2 separate regions of the Homo sapiens genome follow, and region 1 is linked to region 2. Evidence: fine-mapped expression QTL. A gene starts in region 2. The other region holds a variant in brackets. All regions are shown on one strand. Distances are from middle to middle.

Region 1 (12,495 bases), 790 kb before region 2:
AATGGAAAAAATAGAAAGCCCTAGCAAAGAAGTAGAAGAAATAAAGAAGAACTAAATGAAAATTTTAGAACTGAAAAATATGATAACCAAAATAAAAAGCTTAGTGGTTGGGCTCAACAGCAGAATGGAGGAGACAGAGGAAAGAACCAGTGAACTGGAAGACAGAACAATGGAAACTATCTAAAGTGAAGAACAGAGAAAACAAACTAAATCAGGGACCTGCGGAACTATAACAAAAGATCTAATATTTATGTTGCTGGAGTTCAGGCAGAAGAGAAAAAGGGCAGCACTGAAAAAGTATTCAAATAGTTAAATTTTACGGGAGGCCATTGTTTTGGGCTAGTCTCCTGCACCTAGGCCACAGCAGACCAGTCCTAAGCAGAATGGAGTCACTCAGGCTAAGTGCCACCTAATCAAATTGAACTTTGAAAAGAGCCAGTTTTCCAAAAAACAGGTGATTCCGGCCAACCCAAATGAGCATAATAAGGAAGTCCCCTCTGTTTTAGCCCTTTACAGAAAGGGACTTTGAAAGGGCTATCTGCTTTTTGTTCTCTGTATCTGCTCTCTTTAGAGCTTTTCTGCCTATGAAGCCAACTTTCTCTGCTCAGCTCATTAGAGCACTCACCCCATTTTATAGAGTGAGGTGTTGCCTGCTTCTAGAATAGCAGATAAAAGTCAACTAGCTCTTTACACTAAATTTGTTGTAATTTTGTTTTTTGACAAAATAAATAATGGCTGAAAACCTCATAAATTTGGCAAAAGCTGTAAACCTACAGATTCAAGAAGCTGAGCAAACCCCAAACATAGTAAACCCAAAGAAATCCATGGCAGGCAAAGAAAAAACCTGAAAAGCAACCAGAGGAATCAATAGTTTATTCCTATTGGGAAAAAATACTTAAGACTGTAGATCATCCCCCTCTACAAATGTGGTATCTGTTTTCAGAATTCCCACAACAGACTCAGCAGTAACCCCTCACTTGCCCCAGAGAACACTGGATCTTATCTATCTTTTAAATATTGTCTTCTCTGAATAATAGGAGAAAGCTAAATGTCATAATTGCTTTAATTTGTAATTAATTTTTACTATTAGTGAAGCTGAGCATTTTTATATGCTAAGTGTTTGTTGACATTTCTTTATGAATTTCCAATTTATATATTCAGGTTATTAATTCATTTCTGTTTCAACCCCCTCCTGCCCTCAATTTATCATTTATATGTGCCTATGGTATTTTTTGCTGTGTGGAATTCACATTTTGTTTTACCCAGAGAATTCTTTTAACCTTCTCCCTGATGGTTTCTGGTTTTGAGGTCATGCTTATAACTAGCAGCTAAGGTTTTAGGGAATGTAGATTTGTTTTTGATTTGCTGTCCAGGGGTACAGTTTCCCACCTTTTGCATAGCTAAATCCTCTGGATAATAAATTGCACTTTAGTAATAATCTCCAGCCTTAAATATAAGGTATAAGTAAAGAATAAGTATTTGGTCTTCATCCCCAGTTCCCGGCATTGAGCTCCTAAAACCCTTGGATAAGAGTATCTTTTGGAGCCTGGCACAATGGGTCATACCTATAATACCAGCTACTTCAGAGGCTGGGGCAGAAGAATTGCTTGAGGCCAGGAGTTTGAGACCAGCCTGGGCAACACAGTGAGACCCCATCTCTTAAAATAAAAAAAAATAAAATAAATTAGCCTGGCATGGTGATACACATCTGTAGTTCCAGCTACTTTGTAAGCTGATGGGGGAGGATCACTTGAGCGCAGGAGTTTGAGGCTGTAGTGAGCTATGATTGAATCACTGCATTCCAGCTCTGGTTACAGATTGTAGCTCTGGGCAACAGAGGGAGACCCCATCCTTCCCCCTGCTCCACCAAAAGAGTGTCTTTTGTAGGCTAATGAGATGACTCTTGGCTGAGGGGATCCTAGATAGCTTCTGGATTGGGCTGGTCTCCAGAAAAACCAACCATATGTCCAGAGGGTTGGAATGTTCAGTCCCCTCCCACCTCTTTTTGTGTCCCTTAAATCATCATGTCCCAGTCAGTGTGTAAGTGCTCTCTAATCTGGGGAAAAAGCTAGAATGTCACCATGCATCTGTTTAAGACTGCAATTGTTATGCTCATTTTTGATACTGAGGTTTTGAAGAAAGGAGGATGTTGATGGCATTTACAGAATGGAAAAATGGTTGTTTCATTTTTTTTGGCACAGAAAAGTGCTATTCAGTAAGTACATCTAGATTTAATTCCAAAATTTCCTGCCTCTTTATCAAACGATCTAGGTAGGATAACTTATAAAAGACACAAAATTAATAAAATGGGCATAAGAGGGGGCAAATCAAGATAAGGAAGAGTGAAACAAGTATCTGGACTATGCAGATTTAGCAGAGACACAGGCTCTCTGCTTCCTGATTGCACAACAGAGAAGGAAATGTGAAGAATTACACAATTTTTATCATATGAAGTGAGGACACATAACAGCTTCTCAAAGCATGGGTGGAGGAATACAAAATGATTCCTAGAACCCACCCCTGAGATGTTCAGTCTTCATGGTAGACTCTGAGTAGAAGAAGATGTGTCCTATAATGAACAACGTCCTCATTAGTGTTTTCACAGTAAATGCAAATGTAATCCTAATAGAGATTGGATGTGTGCCCCACCCAAATCTCATGTTAGAATGTAATCCCCAGTGTCAGAGATGGGGCCTGGTGGGAGATGATTGAATTATGGGGGCAGATTTCTCATGAATGGTTTAGCACTGTGCCCTTGGTACTGTCCTCGCAATGGTGAGTGAGTTCCTGTGAGCTATGGTTGTTTGAAAGTGTGTGGCACCTCCCCTTGAGCTCTCTTGCTCCTGCTCTTTACATGTGATGTGCCTGCTCCCCCTTTACCTTCTGCCATGATTGGAAGCTTCCTGAGGCCTCCCCAGAAGCAGATGCCACTATGCTTCCTATGCTTCCTGTATAGTCTGCAGAACCATGAGCCAATTAAACCTCTTTTCTTATAAATTACCCAGTCTCAGGTATTTCTTTATAGGAATGCAAGAACAAACCAATACAAATCCCAGTATTAAGAGAGGGGGGCCTTTAGGAGATGATTAGGTCATGAGGGCTTCTCCCTGGTGAATGGGATTAAGGCCCTCATAAAAGAGGCTTCACACAGTGTTTGGCCCTTCCTGCCCTTCTGCCTTCCACCATGTGAGGACACAGTGTTCGTCTCCTCTGAAGGACTCAGCAACATCTGGAAGCAGACAGTAGCTCTCACCCAAGACACCAAACCTGCCTTGATCTTGAACTTGCCAGCCTCCAGAACTGTGAGAAAATGAATTTCTCTTCTTTATAAATTACTTAGTCTCAGGTACTTTGTTAGAGCAACACAAGAGAATGAAGTAAAGCCTCTAGCCAGAATTTTTGTGTTCTATTCCTGTATTCTTGTATTCTATCCTGCCTCCATGGGGAGATGAAGCTATAGAGTGTCTCAACTGGTTGGGATTTTCCTCTAATAGCTGAGTTAGAGATCAGTGGAGACCTCCTAATGCAACCCAGAGAAACATGGAAATGGTGGAAGAGGTTTTAGCCTGAAATATTTTCAGATACTCACTAATTAGCTCATACTAGCGAATTTACCATGGCCATGGTCACGCTGCTCTGGAGCACAAGTCATCTTCTAGATCACCAAAGGAAATGACTTCCTGTGATTATCTGATGACATCTACTTAAGTGCTGGAGAGCGTCTGCCAGCAACAGCGTGACCGCGGTGAGAATGCACCTGGCAGACCTTTGTGTTATCGTGCTGGTGTGCACAGAGGTGTTTTCCCACATGCTGCTCCCAGACAATGACTGGACCTGACAGGACTATTACTGCAGGCTGCTTCCTGAGTCACACAGGACTCCTCTGAGGCTGATGTTGTCATGATCCCTGGGTCTCCAACAGCCTTGCCAAACCTTCCTTAGATTACTGGATAGTCTGGGAGATTCCACCCAAATACTCCTTCCTCCCTCCTTCGCTCAGGCTTAGAGTTGCATTGCAGCTCTCCCATACTTCACTCCCTCTCCATCTTCTCTCACAGTCATTTCCTCTAATAACATTTTTGCATGTTTAATCCCATCCTGACATCTGCTTCATGGAGGACCTGAATTAATACAAATAAGCAACATTTGTTTTTATTTCAATTGATATTTAACCTTTCTGACAACAGAAACACCGTAGGTCTGTACTTCTCACAGGAAGGACCTGACCAATTTCAATTTATGAGGGTCTTTTTTTTTTAAGCCAGATTTTTGTCCTAGGTGAATACTCATCCTTCTATTCCTTATGGCAGAGGGATAAGCAGCTGATTCTCCTAAAACAGTATCACACTCTTATAGTATACAAGAAAAAGGAAGGAGGCTATGACCTAGCCTTGCTTTAACATTGAGGAGGTTATTTTATTTTATTATTTATTTTTTGAGACAGGTTCTCTCTGCTGCTCAGGCTGGAGTGCAGTGGCACAATGGGCTCAAGCAATTGAGGGGTTCATTTTAAACGTATAGTGTAATCCACATCTAAGCTCTGTTTGCAGAATGAGAGGTTGATGAAAGAAAGCTCAATGAAGCTGCAGAGTCTTAATCTTGCTTTTGGCCGCACCAACTCTGGCAGGACCTCGTTCACAAAGACAGAGAATTAACATTTGTTGAATGAATGAAGGAGATGCCGTACAAAGATTGTATGGTTCCTTTCAGAGCCTAAATATTTAATAGGTGGGTCACTGAGGGTCTGAACTAGAATATTTGATAAGCAGACATCCAGGGTTGAGTGTTAGATGTTCTGCAGGGAGATGGATGGAGGGGTACCTACAGGGTTCTGCAAGCTCAGTAATAGATGTTGTTGAAGAAGAAATATAAGTTAGAGACAGGACAGGACACACACAGAATACACCTCTTTGGGGTCAATAAAAAAAGGGAATGAGCCCAGAGGAAGCACTCAAGATCAGTTGCAAATTGATATCCCAAATGTTTTGGCATAGTTCTAGGAAAAAACTCTCCTACATTTCAAAGTCCAGATAATACTGACTCCACCCTCTGGCACAGAGGACTTCTATGGCAACATAGCACAGGAGTGGTACATGAAGGCAAAGTCCATTTGTCTTAGCTCATATCAAATGGTAAAGCAGAGCTTCTTTTATTTTAATTTAGCTATTCAAGCTGCTGAAGCTATACCCAAAAGCCCTAGCCCTTTCTCTGATATGAGTCTCTGTGTTTCCATATTGGGAGCAATTTTTTTTTTTTTTTTTTTTTTTTGAGATGGAGTCTCACTCTTGTTGTCCAGACTGGAGTGCAGTGGCATGATCTTGGCTAACTGCAACCTCCGCCTCCCAGGTTCAAGCCATTCTCGTGCCTTAGCCTCCTGAGTAGCTGGGATTACAGGCACCCGCCGCCATGCCTGGCTAGGTTTTTTTTTGTATTTTTAGTAGAGACGGGGTTTCACCATGTTGGCCAGGCTGGTCTCAAACTCCTGACCTCAGGTGATCTGCCCGCCTCGGCCTCCCAAATTGCTGGGATTACAGGCATGTCCCACTAGGCCCAGCACAATTGTTTTTTATAACTAGAAATGTGTTTGGCTTTCCTCCAACAAACCAGGAAGGTCAAGAGATATGTTCTAGATACCTCTTTGTGGTTGCTTAATGCAGAGCTCATGCAGACACATCTGCAAACCTAAGGAAACGACCCTCTAAGGACTGGTTAGCCACTTAAAATGTGGGCTAAGATAGGCTATTAAACTCTAATCCTCACTGCTTCATTACAGCTTCCTCATATTGTTAGCCTACAAACTAAGTTAAGGACACACTTAAATTCCTTCACTGGCTTCATTGCCCTATTAATTCCTTCTAGCACATATGTTCCCCTATATTTTCTTTTTAAAAGATATGAGTGGAACCTACAACTTTGTGAAGCCAGATATTTTTGGATTTTTACTTTCCTGGGGAAGTGACAGTTTGGCTTTTTTTTTTTTTTTTTTTTTTGAGATGGTGTCTCACTCTGTTGCCCAGGCTGGAGTGCAGTGGTGTGATCTTGGCTCACCACAACCTCTGCCTCCTGGGTTCAAGTGATTCTCCTGCCTCAGCCTCCTGAGTAACTGGGATTACAGGCACCTGGCACCACACCCGGCTAATTTTTGTATTTTAAGTAGAGACGAGGTTTCACCATATTGGCCAGGCTGGTCTCGAACTCCTGACCACAGGTGATCCACCCACCTTGGCCT[T/C]CCAAAGTACTGGGATTACAGGCATAAGCTACCGTGCCCAGCCAGTTTGGGTTGTTTTAAAATAATTTTTCAGTGGTCTCACAGGGCTTAGAGTGCCTCTTACTAGAGGCCCATTTCAACATACCTCCGGTCTGTGGGGTACAGTTCCACAGTGACCACGTCAAGAGAGTTCCAGGCTGAGATGGTCAATCCATTGTACAGACACAGCATGCCTATCATCATGGATTCACTGGTGCCGAACCAAAGGAAGAAACAGCTGATCCCCGAAAGCACCATAGAGCCACCTGCCAACAATGCAGACAAAAGGCTGGAATGTTTCCTGTCATCTTAGTAAAGCAAGAACCCTTGGGTCCTTGGGATTGCTCAAGAAAACTGAATTCTAAGTGGAAGCTGCAGGATGGGCTCCATAAAGCTCAAGAACTGGTGCATTCACCTGAATGAAAGGCTCTAACTGCCTCTGAACACAGAAAGTATGAAATGCATATCATCTTTTACTCAGCTACTTGAGTGGGAAAATATACATTTTACACATAGTTTTTCAGTCTGTTAACTCATGGAAACCACTCAAATGAAATGTAATTAGACATAATTTTCACTATAATTTAGTCCCAACGTAAGGTCTAAAGGATTTCTCCTTATTGGATGCAAATCCCTAATAGATGGGAGTACAGGGGGAAACAGGGTCCCTCTGGATTGCAGGGGCAGCTCTTTTATTTGACATGAAACTGAGTACATACCTAGCATTGTTAAGCGCCCAATTCTGTCCATCAGCAGAGCAGACACAATGTTCCCTGGCAATACTGCCAATGTCCCCAGAAAGTTGACAAAATAAATCCAGTAGGCACTATAGTCATCATCAAAGGTAATCTGACATCCCGTCTTGTTGTGAAAAAACGAGCAGTTTTTAAATTCACTGTCAATGAATTTATATGGCTCAAAATCTGTAGAAACAACAACAAAGACAATTCATCAAGCTCTTACCAGGCATGCACCAGTATAAGAAAGCCTATGGAGGATTCGGAGAGGAAACCAGTATTGTAAATTCCTTGAGGGCTTTCAGGCCTATGCTAGCTTGACTTTTTGGGTCTTCTGGCCAAAGCATAGGATCTAGTCTGGGTCTTCACATCATAAAGTAGGTGAATGATGAGATACCTTTGCTGAATAAAGGAATACATTAAATTAAGGGGTCCAGTTATCTTCTGATTTCCTATGGTCGGCCATTGCTAATTATATTACTTGCTTACTCCTTTACAATATTACTATGTCCTAATTATCATGTTACATAAAGACTATCATTATAGTACTAATAGTGTCCATACTACAATTATAAAAACAATTTGTTTCAAAATGTGCATGGGCTGGGTGTGGTGCCTCATGCCTGTAATCCCAGTGCTTTGGGAGGATGAGGCAGGAGGATTGCTTGAGCCAGGAGTTCAAGACTAGCTTGGACAACATAGTGAGACACCATCTCTACAAAAATAATAATAATAATAATAATAATAATAATAATAATTTTTTATTTGAGGCCGCAGTGAGCTGTGATTGCGCCACTGTACTCCAGCCTGGATGACAGAGCAAGACCCTGTCTCTAAGGAAAAAAAAGTGCAAGAGTCAGCCTTATCATTGCCATTTTATGAGACTAGAGGGCACAGAGAAGGAACAAGTCTTTCCTGAGGCTGAATTTATAATTTAAAGTCTATGTGCATGAATCTACTGAGGAACAAGAGTCAGCCTCATCTGAAGGTCACCAGCATTCATTGCTAATCTTTTCTTGAATTTGAAACCATCCAAGAAGAGTTGCAGATGGTGGTGGTTTCTGCTAAAAGGCTGTGAGAATTGAAACTATCTTCCTTGCTGATCAAGATCTGACAAAATGTTCGTCTTCTGAGGTTTAATGGGTTAGAAGACAGGTAGATAGCATTGCTCAAAAAACAAAAAACAGAAAGACACCTGACCTCATTCTTCTTTGGAGCTAGGCAGAGCCCTTGTCTGAGCACTAAGAAGGCAGGTCTGGCAACAGGGCAAATGCTGATGCTCCTGCCAATGCCACGCTGTTATGCTGGATTCATTTTATAGGACACACAGACCAATGTTTGGGAGTGGGAAAGTGGAAGGCACAGGCTTTGAAATCAAATAAATCTGGGTTCAAACATCTGTTATTACTAGTTCTATAATTGTGGACAAATTACTTAACTTTCCTAAGCCTCAGCTACTGTGAAAACTAAATGAGATAATGAATGTCTAATGACCTAGAGTAGAAAACAGTATATAGGTGTTCAATCAATGCTTGTTTGCCTTCCTTTTTTTTCCCCCTGGGGAGTTTAAAATACCCCATTATATGGATTTGGCCAAAATATATATGTATCTGAGCATAGCCACATGTTGTCTATCTCTGTTGGCTATAGAGTTGAGGCATTTAAACAAACACCAGATTTTGAACCCAGGATTATCAAAACAAATAAACTACAGGTTAGGTCTTTGCTTTAAAAATTTATTCATCAAAGGATTTTTTTGTTGTTGTTGTTGCCAACTTTTGAACTTTGGCAAGCTCCATTTGCACTAAATCTGACAAAGACAAACAATACAAGCCAACCTTTGATCCAACCTGATTTAGAGAACTTGTTCCATTTATTCTTTAATATCCACTTCCCGCATAAGCCTCTGCCCACATTATCACATGGTTATCACAGTGGGCCCTTTGGAGAGGCCTCAGGTAGAGGCAGTACTAAGTAGCACACCTACCTGTGTTGTCAAAAACAGTGTCAATAAATGTGCAGTTCTTGAAGTAGGTGTTCACTGAAGTTACATCCTCAAAGGTGCAGGACTTAAAAACAGAGTCTTTGAAAGTTACAGATTTGAACTTGACCCCTATGAATCTGCCCAACACACAGAAAAATTCATATCAATCAATGACTGTGTCCATCAAAGTTCAAAGCTAAGTCAAATAGTTTTAGAGATGGAATGCCCCACTATGGACTGTCTTAATTATAAAGAACACAGAGTTCTTGATTTTCTTAGCTCTCTGCTTTTTCCCCTTTTTCTCATCCAGGCTGACCTTTGGCTATCTTATTGCTTACCAATATTATTTTTCACCAGGAAAAGAGATGACACTCCTAACTTCCCTTAGCTTTTTGTAATGTTGGTAAAAAGTTTTGTGGGGTATGCAACTGAAGATAGTTTGGGGATTACCTGGGGCTATTCTTTAGGTTTTAATCCTATCGTCTCTTCATGTATATCTTTATTTGAATATTCTCTATTTGGGGTTAATGGCTCTAACTTAAGGATGTCCTCCTACCCGATCTTTTAATAACTTTATTTTTCCCTAGCTGAAAATCCAAGTCTTCTTCATTCTAGTGTAGGGACCTGTAATTATCCTGAAGAGAGAGCATGAGAATTCTGTTTCATTTATGTGAGGAATAACTGACTTGGGGTTGAAGAAACTCATAGGTGACGCTCATTTCCAGGATAATTTTTCTTCTCACAGCCAACAGATAGTCCTTGAACCAAAAGGAATTATGAGAACTCTGCTTATTTTTGGAAACATGAAGAATGATGAAACCTGTTCAGGTATATTTTTGGGTATTATAAGGGGGAATTCTACGTGGTAAAAATGGTAACAGTCATAATGATAATAACATCTTAGAAGAGTCCATGATCCAGGCCTTATCAGCATTGATAAGGACTCCCAGCAGACACAGATAAATATTCATTAACGTGTCCTGGTACTTTATTAAGAGACTATGAATGTACACTTAGCCAGTCACTGAGAGGAAAATGCTTGTTCTCCTCGGGAAGGAGTTGTTATGTCAATACCACTCTTATTAGGGGCAGAAAGGGACTGATCCTTCTAGGTAAGTAGGTTGATTTAAAAGCAGTTTACTAACTATTGAGTACTTTCAAATTTATTCTCTCCCTAATACCCAATTACGTGTGTTGGTTCAAAATGCACATGGCCTCACAGACCAATCAGCTTAAAAAAGAAATCATTCCCATGGTACATTACCTGGAAATAATAATAATGATCTCGTTTCAATCCCCACTCCAGGGACCCAGAGTAAAAACATCTAAATGCACCAAAAGAGACTAAATAATGGCACATCTTTAAAAAGTTATCAATTTTTTCTGTCATGGAACTGAATTTGGAAAAGGGAATGAATCAGTTTTATTTTTTGAATGGATAATTCAGAGAGTACACATGGTGCACAATTCGAAAGGTTGAAAATGGAAAAAGTCAGTCTTTTCCCATCCATCCCCAGGCCACAAGTTCCTCTGCCCAGAATAACCATTGTTGTCAGTTTCTTGTGTGCTCCTCCAGGAGCATTCTGTGTCTAAAGTACACCTGCTTTATCTCCTTCTAGTCTACCTTGGAGGTTATTCCGTATCAGTATATAAAGAGTTGCCATTTTATGATGCTGAATAAAAAAGCTATTTTTTAAAAAATTTCGTTAATGGTATTTCAAATTTTCCTGAAGGACAAAAAAATTGTTTCTATCATCTTTTAAAATAAATGTGTAACATATGTTTTACAAAAACTGTAATACTATTAAAATTAGTAATCATTATATTGCTAATGTAAAAAAGTTCTAAGCAGTGACTGAGTATCCAGTTTAGAACTTTAACATATATTACTAAAAATATGACTGTCAGAGACACAAACATATATTAGAAATTTCTAATGGAGTAACAATACTTTTGAAAGTCAGTTTTCACCCTGGCATCACAGAGGACTTGACACTAAGCTTTCTGTGAAATGCTAAGTGCAGATTCAAGTCAGTATTTTATGTGGGAGAGTGAAGGTGATCCCACTTGGCTTGGATGATGATTAGTTCCTTCATTGAATTGCTAATTTGAACAATTACCTCCTAGTTAGTAACCCTCTTTTCCATTACATAGATCATAAGCATCCCACTGAATTCTTTTTCATCTTTCTGAACTGGTTTTTGCCCTGGGGAACTTTGATTATTTTAGAGTTTTATTTTATCACTTTTGAAATTGGGACAACTTCCTAAGAATGATGTAAACTATCATGAACTTACACTGGCAATTATTTGTTCAGGCAACAAAAATACTTGGATATAAACAAGTACTTGGTCTACTCTTTTCCATCTCTAAAAGAATGACCCAGGACCACCTCCCTGAGTCAGTTCTCTCTTGTCATCAAGAAGTATTTCAGATCCCATAAAGGAGACCCTTCCGTCTTTCAAAGCCCTTTACTTTGGGGAATGATTCCTGTTCTCTAATTGAAACTCTTCCTGATGCAATTTAACCTCAATTCTGGATTCAGCGTATTGGGAAGGATGAATTCTGAAAAGTGGCTCTGTTTCTCAGGAATAGAAGACTCATATAATCACATTTCAGATTTCTTCTGTGAATTAAATAATCCTATAGCCTGTCTTATTTTCCCATACTCTTCACTCTTCTCTTCCTTCCATTATTTTTGTTGCTCTCCAACATTGCTCTAAATTTTCCTTCCACACCAGTCAAGTCCACTACCTAATAAATATGAAGCAACTTAGCTGCAAAAATAGTTTTAAGTGAAGTAATGGATACATTTGTACCTTTTATTTAAAGCCTATTAAGAAGTATTGAAATTCATCATGAAAATGACTAAATGTACAAACTAAAACAAACAAACAAAAAACTATGCCTGTTTCAGTGCAGGGAAAGCTAAGAAGAAATAAGTTTTTGTGAATAGGTAGCAAATTAAATTATTTCAAGTTTCTAGACCTGCCATTGTCGTATTCCATTCCAGTATGAATCTGATTTTCCATTGTAAAGTTAATAGTGAAATTTGCATATTTATCTCTCTCCACATTTCTGGTTAGCAATGCATATTCATCGGACTGCAGAGGTTTAATGACATCAGGGAACCAAACGGATAATCCATAGTACCTGCAAAGACAAAGAAATGTGAGTTTGTAAAGGCACTAGCATGCCAGAGGCAATGAGCAACTCCCTGATGTTTTCAGACTGGTAATAGTTCCCGGAGAATGGCTGGCTCCCTATAACATTATGAGTAATTCATCATACAGCAATCCATGTGTCCCTCTCCCCCAGCATTAATCTGCAAAAATCAAGCTTGAGAGATGGCCTATGGTTAGCTGGAGAACCCCAGGTATGTAATTCCTAAACCCTTCCTTTGGGAAGAGACATGCAGAAAGCATCCGATCCTATGCCCATACATGGTGCCTGGTCTGAATGTGTCCTTCCAAAACTTATGTGTTGGAACTTAAACCCCAGTATAATAATATTAGAGGTGGGGGCTT
Region 2 (12,495 bases):
TTCAACATATTCAAATCAATAAACATGATACATCACATTAACAGAATCAAGAACCAAAAACATATGACCATTTCAATAGATGCTGAAAAAGTATTTGACAAATTCAACATCTCTTTATGATAAAAACCCTCAGCAAACTGGATACAGCAGGAACATGTTCCCAAATAATAAAGGCCACATGTGATAAAACCACAGCTAACATCACACTGAATGGTGAAATATTGAAAGCCTTTCCTCTAAGATCTGGAACAAGACAAGGATGCCCACCTTCACCACTGTTATCTAATATAATACTGAAAGCCCTGGTCACAGCAATCAGACAAGAGAAAGAAATAAAGGGCATCTAAATTGCAAAGGAAGGAGTCAAGTTATCTTTGTAGGCAACATAATCTTATATTTACAAAACCCCTAAAGACTCCACCAAAAGCTGTTAAGAACTGATAAACAAATTCAGTAAAGTGTCAGGATACAAAATTAACATACAAAAGTCAGTACAGACTTTTTTTTATTTAGATTGCTTTCTTGATTTATTTTTCATGTTGTTTGCTGTTAGAGCATAACATTTACAATAGTTACAAATAATATAAAATACGAAGCAATTATCTTAAGTGAAAGATCTGTAAAAGAAAACTATAAAACACTGATGAAGAAAATTGAAGACACAAATAAAAGGAAAGATATTCTAAGCTTGTGGAATTAGAAGAATATTGTTAAAACGACAATACTACCCAAAACAATTTTCAGATTCAATGCAATCTCTATCAAAATACCAGTGACATTCTTCACAGAAATAGAAAAAGAATCCTAAAACGTATATAGAACCACAAAAAGACTCTGAATAGCCAAAGCAGTCCTAGGGGAAAAGAACAAAGCTTGGGGCATCACACTATCTGACTTCAAAATATACTACAAAGCTATAGTAACCAAATGACCATAATACTGGCAAGAAAATAGACACATGGACAAATGGAACAGAATAGAGAACCCAGATATAAATCCACACATTTACAACCAAGTAATTTTTGACAAAGCAATCAAGAACACATCATGGTAAAAGGATAGTCTCTTCAATAAATGGTGCTGGGAAAACTGGATAACCACATGCAGAAGAATAAGACTATCTCTCAGATATTTCTTCCTTATCTCTTTGATTTTTGATACAAAAATCAAATCAAAATGGATTAGAAACTTAAATGTAAGATCTGAAATTATGAAACTACTAGAAAAATGTATTTGGGAAATACTCCAGGACATTGGCCTGGCCAAAAGTTGTTTTATTTTGTTTTTTTGTTTTTGGAGACAGGGTCTCACTCTGTTACCTGGCTTTGAATGCAGTGGTGTAATCACAGCTTTCTATACCCTTGACCTCCTGAGCTCAAGCAATCCTCCCACCTCAGGCTCCTGAGTAGCTGGGATCACAGGTGTGTGCTACCACATCCAGCTAATTTTATTTATTCATTTAACTTTATTTTTAAACTTTTAATGTTTTAAACTTTTTTCTTTAATTTTATTTTAATTTTTAAACTTTTAAAATTCTTTTTGCAAAAGTAGGGTCTCCCTATGTTGCCCAGACTGGTCTGAAACTCCTGGGGTCAAGCAATCCTCTGCCTCAGCCTCCCAAAGTGCTGGGATTATAGGCATGAGGCACAACTCTTGGCCTGGCCAAAAACTTTTCTGTGTAAGACCACAAAAGCACTGACAACCAAAGCAAACGTAGACAAATTAGATTATATCAAGCTAAAAAGCTTCTTCACAGCTGAGTGAACAATCAACAAAGTGAAGGGACAACCCACAGAACAGGAGAAAATGTCTGCAAACTATCCATCTGACAAGGGATTAGTAACCAGAATATATAAGGAGCTCAAACAACTCAATAAAAGAAAAATAATCTTATTTAAAAATGGGCAAAAGAATAGACATTTCTCAAAATAAGGCATACTAATGGCCAACAGGTAAATTAAAAAAATGTTCAACATCACTAATCATCATAGAAATGCAAATCAAAACCACAATGAGCTATCATCTTACCCCAGTCAAAATGGCTTAAAAAAAATTTTTTTTATTATACTAGAGACGAGGTCTCACTACGTTGCCCACGCTAGTTTTAAACTCCTGAGCAGCTCAAGTGATCCTCTCACCTCAGTCACCATGGGCGGCCTAAAATGGCTTTTATTAAAAAGATAGAGAATAATGGATGGTGGCAAGGATGTGGAGAAAGGGGAACCCTGCTACACTGTTGGTGGGAATGTAAATTAGTACAGTCACTATGGAATACAGTATGGAGGTTCCTCAGAAAACTTAAAATACAACTACTGTATGATCTAGCAATTCTACTACTACGTATATATCCAAAAGGGAAATCAATACATTGAAGAGATATCTGCACTCACACGTTTATTACAGCACTATTCACAATAGCTAAAATATGGAATCAACCATCAATGGATGAATGGATAAAGAAGATGTGGTCTATATACACAATGGAATTTAGCCATAAAAAAAGAATATTGGGCCTGGCATGTTGGCTCACATCAAATCTCAACACTTTGGGAGGCCAAGGCAGGAGGATTGCTTGAGGCCTCCCTATTTCAAGAATATATGGAATAAAAATTTGGGTTTGCTATGTTTTTATTTTTATTATAATTTCTAATAAAGTTGTTTTTCCACTATCCCTTTATTGCTGCTTCTCAGGACTATTCATAAAATGACCAAAAATACAAAAAATAAAATGATAGTAAATGACAATGACTATTTTTCCTGATAATACCAAAGGTTAAATCAATACGTTTTTCCTTTTAGTAGCAACACAAGACAAGGGGATAGTTGCAAGAGGCTCCAGAGATCATTTAAATTATTTATGCGTAATTGGAACATATATTTGCTAGTGTACACTAGCAAGAAAAGAGCTGTAAACTGGCTATATGTTACTGCACCTTAAAAATGCATGTGGATGAATTTTCTTTTAAGAAAACTGTTAAACTAAAGAAAAACTATGTAACACACCTAGAATGTAATCTATCTGGCTCTGACAGATTCTCAAATGTTTAATCATTTAAAAAATTTGGGATAATAGTTTTTTGGAATTTTTTTTTTTTTGAGACAGGGTCTCACTTTGTCACCTACACTGGAGTGCACTGGCATGATCACAGCTCACTACAGCCTCAAACCTCTGGGGTCAAGCTAGCCTGCCACCTCAGCACCCTGAGCAGCTAGGACTACAGATATGTGCCATTATGCCTGAGTGACTTTTCTAAAATCTAAAATCAATTCTATATGTATTAAAAGTTATGTATTGCAAGCGCCTAAGGTCCAAAGTCTGGACTAGACTATTCACTAGCGATGATCTGGGCAATTAACTTCTTTGAATGTTAATTTCCTCATATGTAAAGTAAGAATAATGTCTACCTTGCAGGATTTTTGTGAAGAGCGAATAAATCAAATGAACCTAAAACAATGTTTGACATTTTGTAGGCCTTTGGCAAATGATAATTGCTACTTACAAAAGGCTATGATGTTATTTGGTTCTTTGGTGTCTGACCAATTTTAATCATGTTAGTGATTTTTTTCTTGGGCCTTGTTAATTGCAGTTCCCACAACTTCTCTTCAATCATCAACCAAGTTAAACTTATTTCATTCATCAGTTATTATTTACTGAAAACCTCCTATGTCACACACAATTTTAAATATTTATTCACTCTCTACACATAATTATTGTCAGAATACCTAGACAGAAAAATGCTAGAAAACAATGAATCTACAGAAGAAGTGGTTTATATCTTACTTTTATAGCACCCCAGTCAGATTATCATATAGCAAGATCTTAATAAAGATCTTAAACAGGGATAAAGTATATTTTCATAAACTATCACCATAGCAACATGTTCTATAAAAATATATTTTTTCAACTTATTTGACTAAGAAGAAAAGGATGTGAAATTATAGTAGAAGTGAAACAATAAAAAGGTTAGAAAAAAACAGGAAGCAAAACACGTTTACTAAATAACTATCAAGAGGATTCTACTGATACCTAATATACCACCACACTGCTTTATATAGTATGCCTTTAAAATATTAATAAAAGAATTTCTCACAGTAACAGGAAGAGACTCAAAAGCTAAGCAAAATAAAAACGACAGAAAGAACATGTGTACATGCCAAGAGTGGGCACTAATACTGTTCATTGGTGTACCGTACTGTGTGCTTTTTAGACTAAAAGATTTTCCAATGTTATAGTGAAGCCTATGAAATACCAACTACTCTAACAAGTTTTTATCCCATAAACCAAACAGATAGGAGTAAAAGATATGGGAATACATTTTCAATTTCATTGAATAGTAAGAATATTTCTGCTTGAAACATTCCTAGCCTGGCTCTCATTTCTACAATAGGAAACAGGATAAAAAGGGTGGCCTACACACCCTTTGAAATTCCATTTCTGAAATCACTGTCTTATTCTCGAATGTTAGAACTTTTTATGAGATCTGACATATTCTCAAGCAGCTGTGAAGTGCATTAAGGTATCAATGAGTATCCCCATCTACCTCTTCCCTCCCACTTTTCCAAAAATACAGCTGTCTTTGGAGACTTAAATGGTAAAAATCAACAGATAAAGGAGTCCTAGACAGATATGCAAAGTCACCTTAAGGATCAAAGCTGCAGAATAAGACATGGCAGTATGAGCATAATATAATAATAATTGATATTAGTAAAAGAACTCATCAATATAAATGGAGTGTGGATGGTCAGAAAAAGAAGAAAGTAAAAGAAAGCAAGATAAATATTGGCAATGCCTACTTAAATATCCATTGCCACGATAGGGATAACCTAGCTTCATGCTACCAACCATTCAGAATCGTAATTAATCCCCCATGCAGGAAGAAAAAAATATGATACTGGGATATGGGAGAAGGTCATCAAGCCTAGATTTGAAACCAGGATATAAAGAGCTGGAGTTACAGGCACCTACCACCATGCTCGGCTAATCTTTGTATTTTTAGTAGAGACGGGGTTTTACCTTGTTGCCCAGGCTGGTCTCAAACTCCCGGCCTCAGGTGATCCACCCACCTCGGCCTCCCGAAGTGCTGGGATTACAGGCGTGAGCCACCACACTCGGCCAGCGTTTTCCCTTAGACTCGAAATTTCGCTCCTATCGTCCCATCCTTGTAGTAAGAAAGTACTCTTTCTAAGGTTTAATAACAAATTTTACTCTTGGCAATTACAAGGAAATCGACTATATTAAAATAGCTAACGAGAGGAAATTACTGAAGCTACAAAGTCAAAGTCTCATAATCAAAGTTATCCTTGACAACTGACAAGAGTTGTTAGATCTTCTATTGGTCTTTCTGCTAATTCAACCCTAGTCTTAAAACAAAAATAGCCTCCTATTGCCTAATCCCTTGTACACACAAAACCACTGCACTTCGGTATTTCTAATACGAGAAAGTTTCTATATATCCAACCTTTCCTATCTTTGAGGGGCAGGCATGGTTAACGTGGTTCTCAGTAAGATATTCATTTACAACCAAGAGAAAATCCCAGGCTATCATCTCACATTCTTGTTTTACTTTAAAAACCTTTCTAACGTCATTTATTCTCTGACAACCTCAAAATTACTTTCTACAAAGCAAACTCTAGAAATCTAAAAATGCGAAGTGCGTGCTTGTGAGAAGGTACTAAGGAAATTCTTCCTTTAAACGTCAAATGTGAATTCTAACTTCTAATGAGTAAGACCCTCGAGATTTACAGCGGTGGTCTGGTGGAAAGAAAACCCTTGGCACTAGTAGCTCACAAAACCCCAGCCCATGGTTGAGGCGGAAGCGGCCAGATGCTCCCGGGCTTTCGACAAGCCGCCCTGGAAAGCAGGCCCGTCATCTTCAGCGGAAAGCTCTCTCACGTCTGGGCCCGCAAGCCCGGAGGGTTCGTCATAAACACACAAGGCAAGGATAGAAGCGAGGCCGAGGGGCTGGTCACGCAACTGTCAAACGAAGCCCACCCACCGACTGACAAGGCCCCAAGGGGACAAGCGATCCCCGCGCGGGATACTCACCCGTTACCTCAGGATCGCGACTACAACTCCCAGGAGGCTGCGCGAGCGACGGACCAACGCCCTTCCCAGAATGCAGCACAGCTGCATCCCTACCCCGCCCTCTCCTTTCTCCGCTCCTCCTGCTTTTCTACCCGTCGTCACCCGGGAGAGCCGGAGGTAGGGTTCGGGAGGAGGATCCCGAAGGCTCGGCGTGTCGCGTCAGACGCCGGGAGGGGGACGGGGCGGGGAGTAGTGGGGGAGAATGGGAGGACGAAGGGGAGGGGAAAGGACAGGGGAGGGGAGGGTAAATAGTGGGCCAGGCAGGAAGATGGCGGCGGTAGCGGAGGTGTGAGTGGACGCGGGACTCAGCGGCCGGATTTTCTCTTCCCTTCTTTTCCCTTTTCCTTCCCTATTTGAAATTGGCATCGAGGGGGCTAAGTTCGGGTGGCAGCGCCGGGCGCAACGCAGGGGTCACGGCGACGGCGGCGGCGGCTGACGGCTGGAAGGGTAGGCTTCCTTCACCGCTCGTCCTCCTTCCTCGCTCCGCTCGGTGTCAGGCGCGGCGGCGGCGCGGCGGGCGGACTTCGTCCCTCCTCCTGCTCCCCCCCACACCGGAGCGGGCACTCTTCGCTTCGCCATCCCCCGACCCTTCACCCCGAGGACTGGGCGCCTCCTCCGGCGCAGCTGAGGGAGCGGGGGCCGGTCTCCTGCTCGGTTGTCGAGCCTCCATGTCGGATAATCAGAGCTGGAACTCGTCGGGCTCGGAGGAGGATCCAGAGACGGAGTCTGGGCCGCCTGTGGAGCGCTGCGGGGTCCTCAGTAAGGTGAGCAACCCCTGGTGCCAAGGGACCCCTGGCCAGACTCACCTGCAGCGAGGCAATCCGCTGAGGCGGTGGGGTGGGGCTGGCGGGAGGCGCGGAACGTGCCGGGGTGCGAGGCTGAGTGTTGCTGCAGCGACTAGGGATGAGGCGGGGATATAGGGGCACTGTCCTTGTTGCCCGGGGGCTCGTCGGGGGCAGCCGAGGACCAGGGAAAGGGTGTATAAACCTGAGATCCAGTTTGGGAGGCCAGATGCGCGCCGTGACTTGGGACTTAGGGCGGCAGCTGTCCCGGGTGTAAGGAATCCGGGTTGGGCTTCAGCGGTGTCCGAACGACTGGGCATGGGAGCGGTTCAAGTCGGACCTCTTAAAAGAGGTTGGTCTCTCTGAGGATGCCAAGCCGAGTAGGTTGGGGGGCACTGCGGACGCAACTCTTTCGACAGAAGCTGGAGCGACTCAGCTTGGTGTTGAAATTTGAGGTGTTGAATTCTGCTAGGTTAGATGTAGTGAGACAGATGAATGTGGAGGACTTTCTCCCTCACCCTGTACCTTAGTTCAGAATAGAGATATTGAATCGGCACATGATGGGTACAGGAAATATTCATAGTAACTTGGAACATGTGAGAATGGAGACTGATCTTTAGTCCAGGAAGAGCATTACTTAATAATAAAATATTTTTGCGGTAAGGGGTCGAGGGTAAGGAAAAGATGTTTTATCTTTTATATATTTTTTAAAATCCCTGTATCAAAATTTTAGCAAAGCAGTCATTATAGGACTGCAGGTGGATGATCTCTTGATATTACATAGTTGTGGGGATTTTTTTTTTAAGTTTTTGCTGTAAGAAGATTCACGTAGCCTTTTTGACTTCTCTCTCCCTTCCTGTTAAACTTTTTTAGACATGGCTGGAGCTAGCAGTTAACTTGGAGAGGGGGAGCTGGGCCAGTCCCTCAACAAGCTGGTCATAAGATACTATGTCATGTGCAGCCAGTGGCTATTAAGAAATCACCCTGTTTCCAGTATTCATATTTGGCAAATCACTTGGACATTATTTGTGGAATTGTTTCATATTAGGCTTTTATAATGTCTAGAAAGCTAATGAGAAGGGGGCCAGGAAAGGCATGAGTAGTCAGAACTAAGGATTGCAAGTGTTGACTTTTATTTGTATAGCAGCAAAATTATGTTGTATATTGATGCTGTGATCATTCTTGAAATTTCAGTGCAAGGTTTTCAGTAACGAGAAGCTCCTCAGGATTTCTTTAGATTAAATGTATCCTGTAATTTAGGAATCTCTATTGAACACATTGTGTAGTAGGTATACATTTTCAGTTGGTAATAGGAAGTGGGTTACTTGCTTCTCAGTGATTTTGGTAGTTTCATCACTGCTCATAAGATGGGAAGCTGACTGCCATATTAGTATTGTGATGTGTTAAGTATTTTACGAAACAAATTGTACTTTTGACCTACTGATAATTACTTTTTTGGGGGTTGGGGGAGTGGAGTGACCGGGGGAAAAAGTAACCAGTGCTCTGGAGTAGGTATACTATAGATAAAAAAATGGAAGACCAATCTCGATATTTAAATGCATACAAATGTATTTGATCACCTCTATGGAAGGTGAATAGCTTAAATTTTGACTGTTGCTGCATATGTAGAATGAATAGGAATAAAGCTTTTGGTATTCTTGCTCAAAGCTATGAAGGAAATTTTCCTGAGATTTACCAATTTATGGTTATATACAGTTTTCTGGAAGCTTTTTAATCAAGGGTATTCTAAATTGAGTATATATACTCATACTGAGTATGGTAGATGTTTTTAAATGTAAATTATATAGTTTGAATTCTTTGTATTCACCTGGTAATTTAAACAAAGGTCAGAACTCGGATTTTGTTCTTTTCCTTCCATTGAGTAATGTAAATAAGTCCCGGTACAATTCATTTTGTTTCTCCCCCAAAATGGGGTGGATTTGGAATGGGCTTGGGTAAATTTATATTAGAAATATACCAGTTCAAAGGGTATTTTCCATATGGTAATCTGAAATACATGGAAATACCTATGAAGCATATTTCTTATAAATCACTTAAGTGTATAGATTCCAAAAATACTAGATAGACAATAATTCTATCTAGTTATAGCAAGTATCGTGATGGATCATGGTGGGGAAAAGATGCATGCCTTAGTAGGACTTGAGAGCACCTAAGCCTGGATAAAATAATCTCATTCAATTTCTGAATTTCCTCCATCCTTCATGGTTTACCTTCTGTTTTTCCACACACCAAACTGTTTGAAATTCTGTCCATCCTTAAGAGTCCAAGCCAAATACTGTCCTTTCCATAAAGCCTTTTCTTATTTTGCCATCATTCAAGACCTCCTTCACTTGAATTCCCATAGCATTTTGTTTGTAGCTTGCTTCTGACTCTTATTCTAAATATATATTTTTTTCTCTTGAGTTTGTGTCTGCTGGCCTGTTGGCCACAGTAATATTTGATTCCCCTGCAGTGTCTAGCATATTGCCTTATCTGTATTTGTTAAATGGGGAAGAGTGAGGGAACATTATGAGAGCAGAGAAAAGACAAAAAACTTGTCTTCCAGGTGTCATGATACAGCTAATACTTACTGAGTAAAGGGTCCTGAAGCTGATACAGTTTGTTCAGTCTCTTATAAGAACTAATATTAAGTTATGGATACATAATTGCTGGGGCTTCTCCTCTAACATTGAAAGAGTTCTATTCTAGTGAGAAATGCTGAAGGTTAAGCTTCATTAGCTATGTATAACTCTTCCTCAGATTCAGAAAATACTATGTCCAGGCACTGTTCTAAGTCTATTCTTGTTTAAACTTAACTCTAAGAGAATTTGACAAAGAAAAAAAGAACACAAAGAGAATAAGTAACTTGACCACTGTCACAAAGTTTAGCCTTATGAAGTGTGGTAATTGTAAATGAGGTAGGATTAATCCATGAAGGGTCTTGAATGCCCTAAACAATTTGTATGACAGTCAGTGGGAAGTTGTCCATGTAAGTTTTGGAGCTAGAGACTCAATACGATCAATGTAAGAAAAGTAGGCAAATATGCTTAGTAAGTAAATAAGCTTGTGTAAATTATGAAAAAAACAGAAGATACTAGAGAAAAAATTATTAAGTCTCCTAAGGAATACAGGAACTGGATAATTTGATTGGAATAGTTGAAAATGAGAAGAGGAGGCAAATTTAAGGGTTTACTATGAAGGAAAGATGAGCAGCTTTTGGTAATGGGCTATAAATATTGAGAAGGAACACTTAGGTATTGAGTATCTTCTGTGACTATGCTAGGCATTTTCATTATTTTATTCGGCCGTCAGTCAACAGGCAAAGAAACTGAAGTTTACAAAAGTAACTTGTCAAAACTCTCTTCACATGAGTTATAAAATAGTTGAGCCTATTTTATCCTATATCCACTAATCTGTTTGTATATCTAATACACTAACTCTGAGCAGAAGTAGCAGTCTCCCCAAGGAAGTAGGAAAATAGGAAGGAAGTATACTTTATAGGAAGGTGAATTCAGTTTTATTGGTAACTATCATTTATTTCAAGCCCGTGTCTAAGTGGTGGTACATCTCAAGCAGTTAGAAATAAGGAAATGGTGATTGGGAGCCACTAGAATGAGTTAAATGTTGGCTTGGGTGAGTTCTCAGAGAGTGGTTGTAATGATGGGGCTTAGAAAAATTAAGAACTGGCTAGGGATGGTGGCTCACCTGTAGTCCCAGCACTTTGGGAGACCAAGGAAGACAGATCGCTTGAGCCCAGGAGTTTGAGACGAGCCTTGGCACCATAGCGAAACCTCATTTCTACAAAAAATTAGCCAGATGTGGGGGTGCACACCTGTAGTCTCAATCACTTGGGAGGCTGAGGTGGGAGGATTGAGCCCAGGAGATTGCGGTAAACTGAGATGGTGCCACTGCACTCCATCCTGGGTGACAGAGCGAGACCCTGTCTCAAGAAAATACTAAATAAAAGAAAATTTAAGAAGTGAATCAATCTCAAAAATGCTTAATTAGAGAACAGAAAAATAAAAGATTTCTCAGTGGATATAGAGCCTGAGCCAATGCAGTATATTTTGGCAATCCATTTTTAATTAGTTTTTGGAATTGGCAGATAGTTTTTGAGATTTTTCTATACTTAACACCCCAGAGCATAGATAAAAACATGCAAAAATAAGTATTCCTGTAAAGGTTACATTTCTGCCTTTTCCAGTTTATTGTGATCTTCACTTTGCAGCAAGACTTTAGCAACACAGAAACTCTTAAGGTATTGAAGACAATCCAATATGTTTTTGAAAAGCAATTTTATTTTTGTTTTATTACTCTTGAGTTTGAAAAATGCATGTTCAGAGGAACTTGGAAAATGTATTGGCCATTTTTAATATTATTCAGTTCTGTAGAGGAAAAGTTAAAGTTGATGCCAGCTTACTAAAGATTATTATTTTTATTTTGATATAGTTACAGCTGTTATAAATTTTCATATAGGAATAACAACAAAAGTAGAGTTTAGCAATAATTGACTTTATACTTCCGTTGATTTAGAAGGCTTCATGCAGTCTTTGGTGTCAGAATGAGAGACTACATACATAACTGAACATACTTCTCTGTTGAATATGTTAATTATGACAAGGACCAAAACAAATATCATGAAGGTACTTAGGAGAGGATGAAAGCATACGAAGAATAAACAATAATTTTAACCAAAATCTGGCTTTCGTTTTATTCTTCAAATGTTAGAAGAAAATGTTATATTTTATTTCTTACAGATTTATTTATAATATTGTAAAAATTACTGAAAATCATTATGCAATCTAGAAAATCTCAACTTTTCACTTTTTGTAATCATTTTACTGTTTATGCTTAGAATTAAGTTGGACTTTTCACGTTTTGGTTTTAAAATTAGATTGCTGTTTCACAAAGTTTGGATTTCTAAAATACTTCTATTTTTTGTTTTCTTCTCTCTTCCCTTCCCCTTCCCACTCCCAGTGGACAAACTACATTCATGGGTGGCAGGATCGTTGGGTAGTTTTGAAAAATAATGCTCTGAGTTACTACAAATCTGAAGATGAAACAGAGTATGGCTGCAGAGGATCCATCTGTCTTAGCAAGGCTGTCATCACAGTAAGTTCCTTTTCTTCTTCATTCAACAAATATTTATTGAGTGTCAGCTACATACCAGGAACTGTTCTACGTGTTCAGGATACATCCGTGGATAAGATAAAGATCCTTGTCCTTGTAGAATATACATTCTAATACTTTTTTCCATAAAGTGATTTTACTGTGGTTTTTACTACATATTGTTATTTTGCATAGACATGTAGTTTTTATCTGGTGGGTATATCAAACCAGTTTAAGGGCTTCAGGAAAAAAAAATGTTTGAAGCCTTTTTATTTGTTGAGGCTGGGACAGTTACTTTGTAGGTTACTGAATATTTAAAAATAATACATCTTGTAAGTAACATTCTAAAATTTTAACTTAAAAATATAAATGTAAATTCATTTTTAAACTTTTTAACATTGAGCTAATGCCATCTCTTTGTGGAGTTGGGAGAAGCTGTTCTCATGTTCCTCACACATGATTTGCTATTTACAGTTTTGATTTCTCTAATGTGGAATAAAAGCCTGAAGATAACTTTTG

The links.
Region 1: its variant is fine-mapped to the expression of POLK in vagina (GTEx, PIP 0.93).

Annotation. Positions count from the first base shown.
Region 1 is chr5:76,295,404-76,307,898 of GRCh38, reverse strand. It overlaps SV2C (synaptic vesicle glycoprotein 2C), which reads right to left. Exons shown (of 13, transcript NM_014979.4): 9 at 11,957-12,121; 10 at 8,972-9,105; 11 at 6,967-7,170; 12 at 6,354-6,513. It overlaps SV2C-AS2 (SV2C antisense RNA 2), which reads left to right. Exons shown (of 4, transcript XR_001742750.2): 2 at 9,714-9,796; 3 at 12,055-12,139. Among named protein-coding and RNA genes, the nearest start is that of SV2C-AS2, 10 kb to the left of the region's middle. RefSeq lists enhancers at 10,823-11,705, 11,685-12,495. The variant T/C (reference allele first, on the strand shown) is at 6,230.
Region 2 is chr5:75,505,466-75,517,960 of GRCh38, reverse strand. It overlaps POLK (DNA polymerase kappa), which reads right to left and starts at 6,070. Exons shown (of 15, transcript NM_016218.6): 1 at 6,047-6,070. It overlaps CERT1 (ceramide transporter 1), which reads left to right and starts at 6,332. Exons shown (of 17, transcript NM_001379029.1): 1 at 6,332-6,849; 2 at 11,845-11,979. The coding sequence starts at 6,754. RefSeq lists enhancers at 5,776-6,155, 6,906-6,975.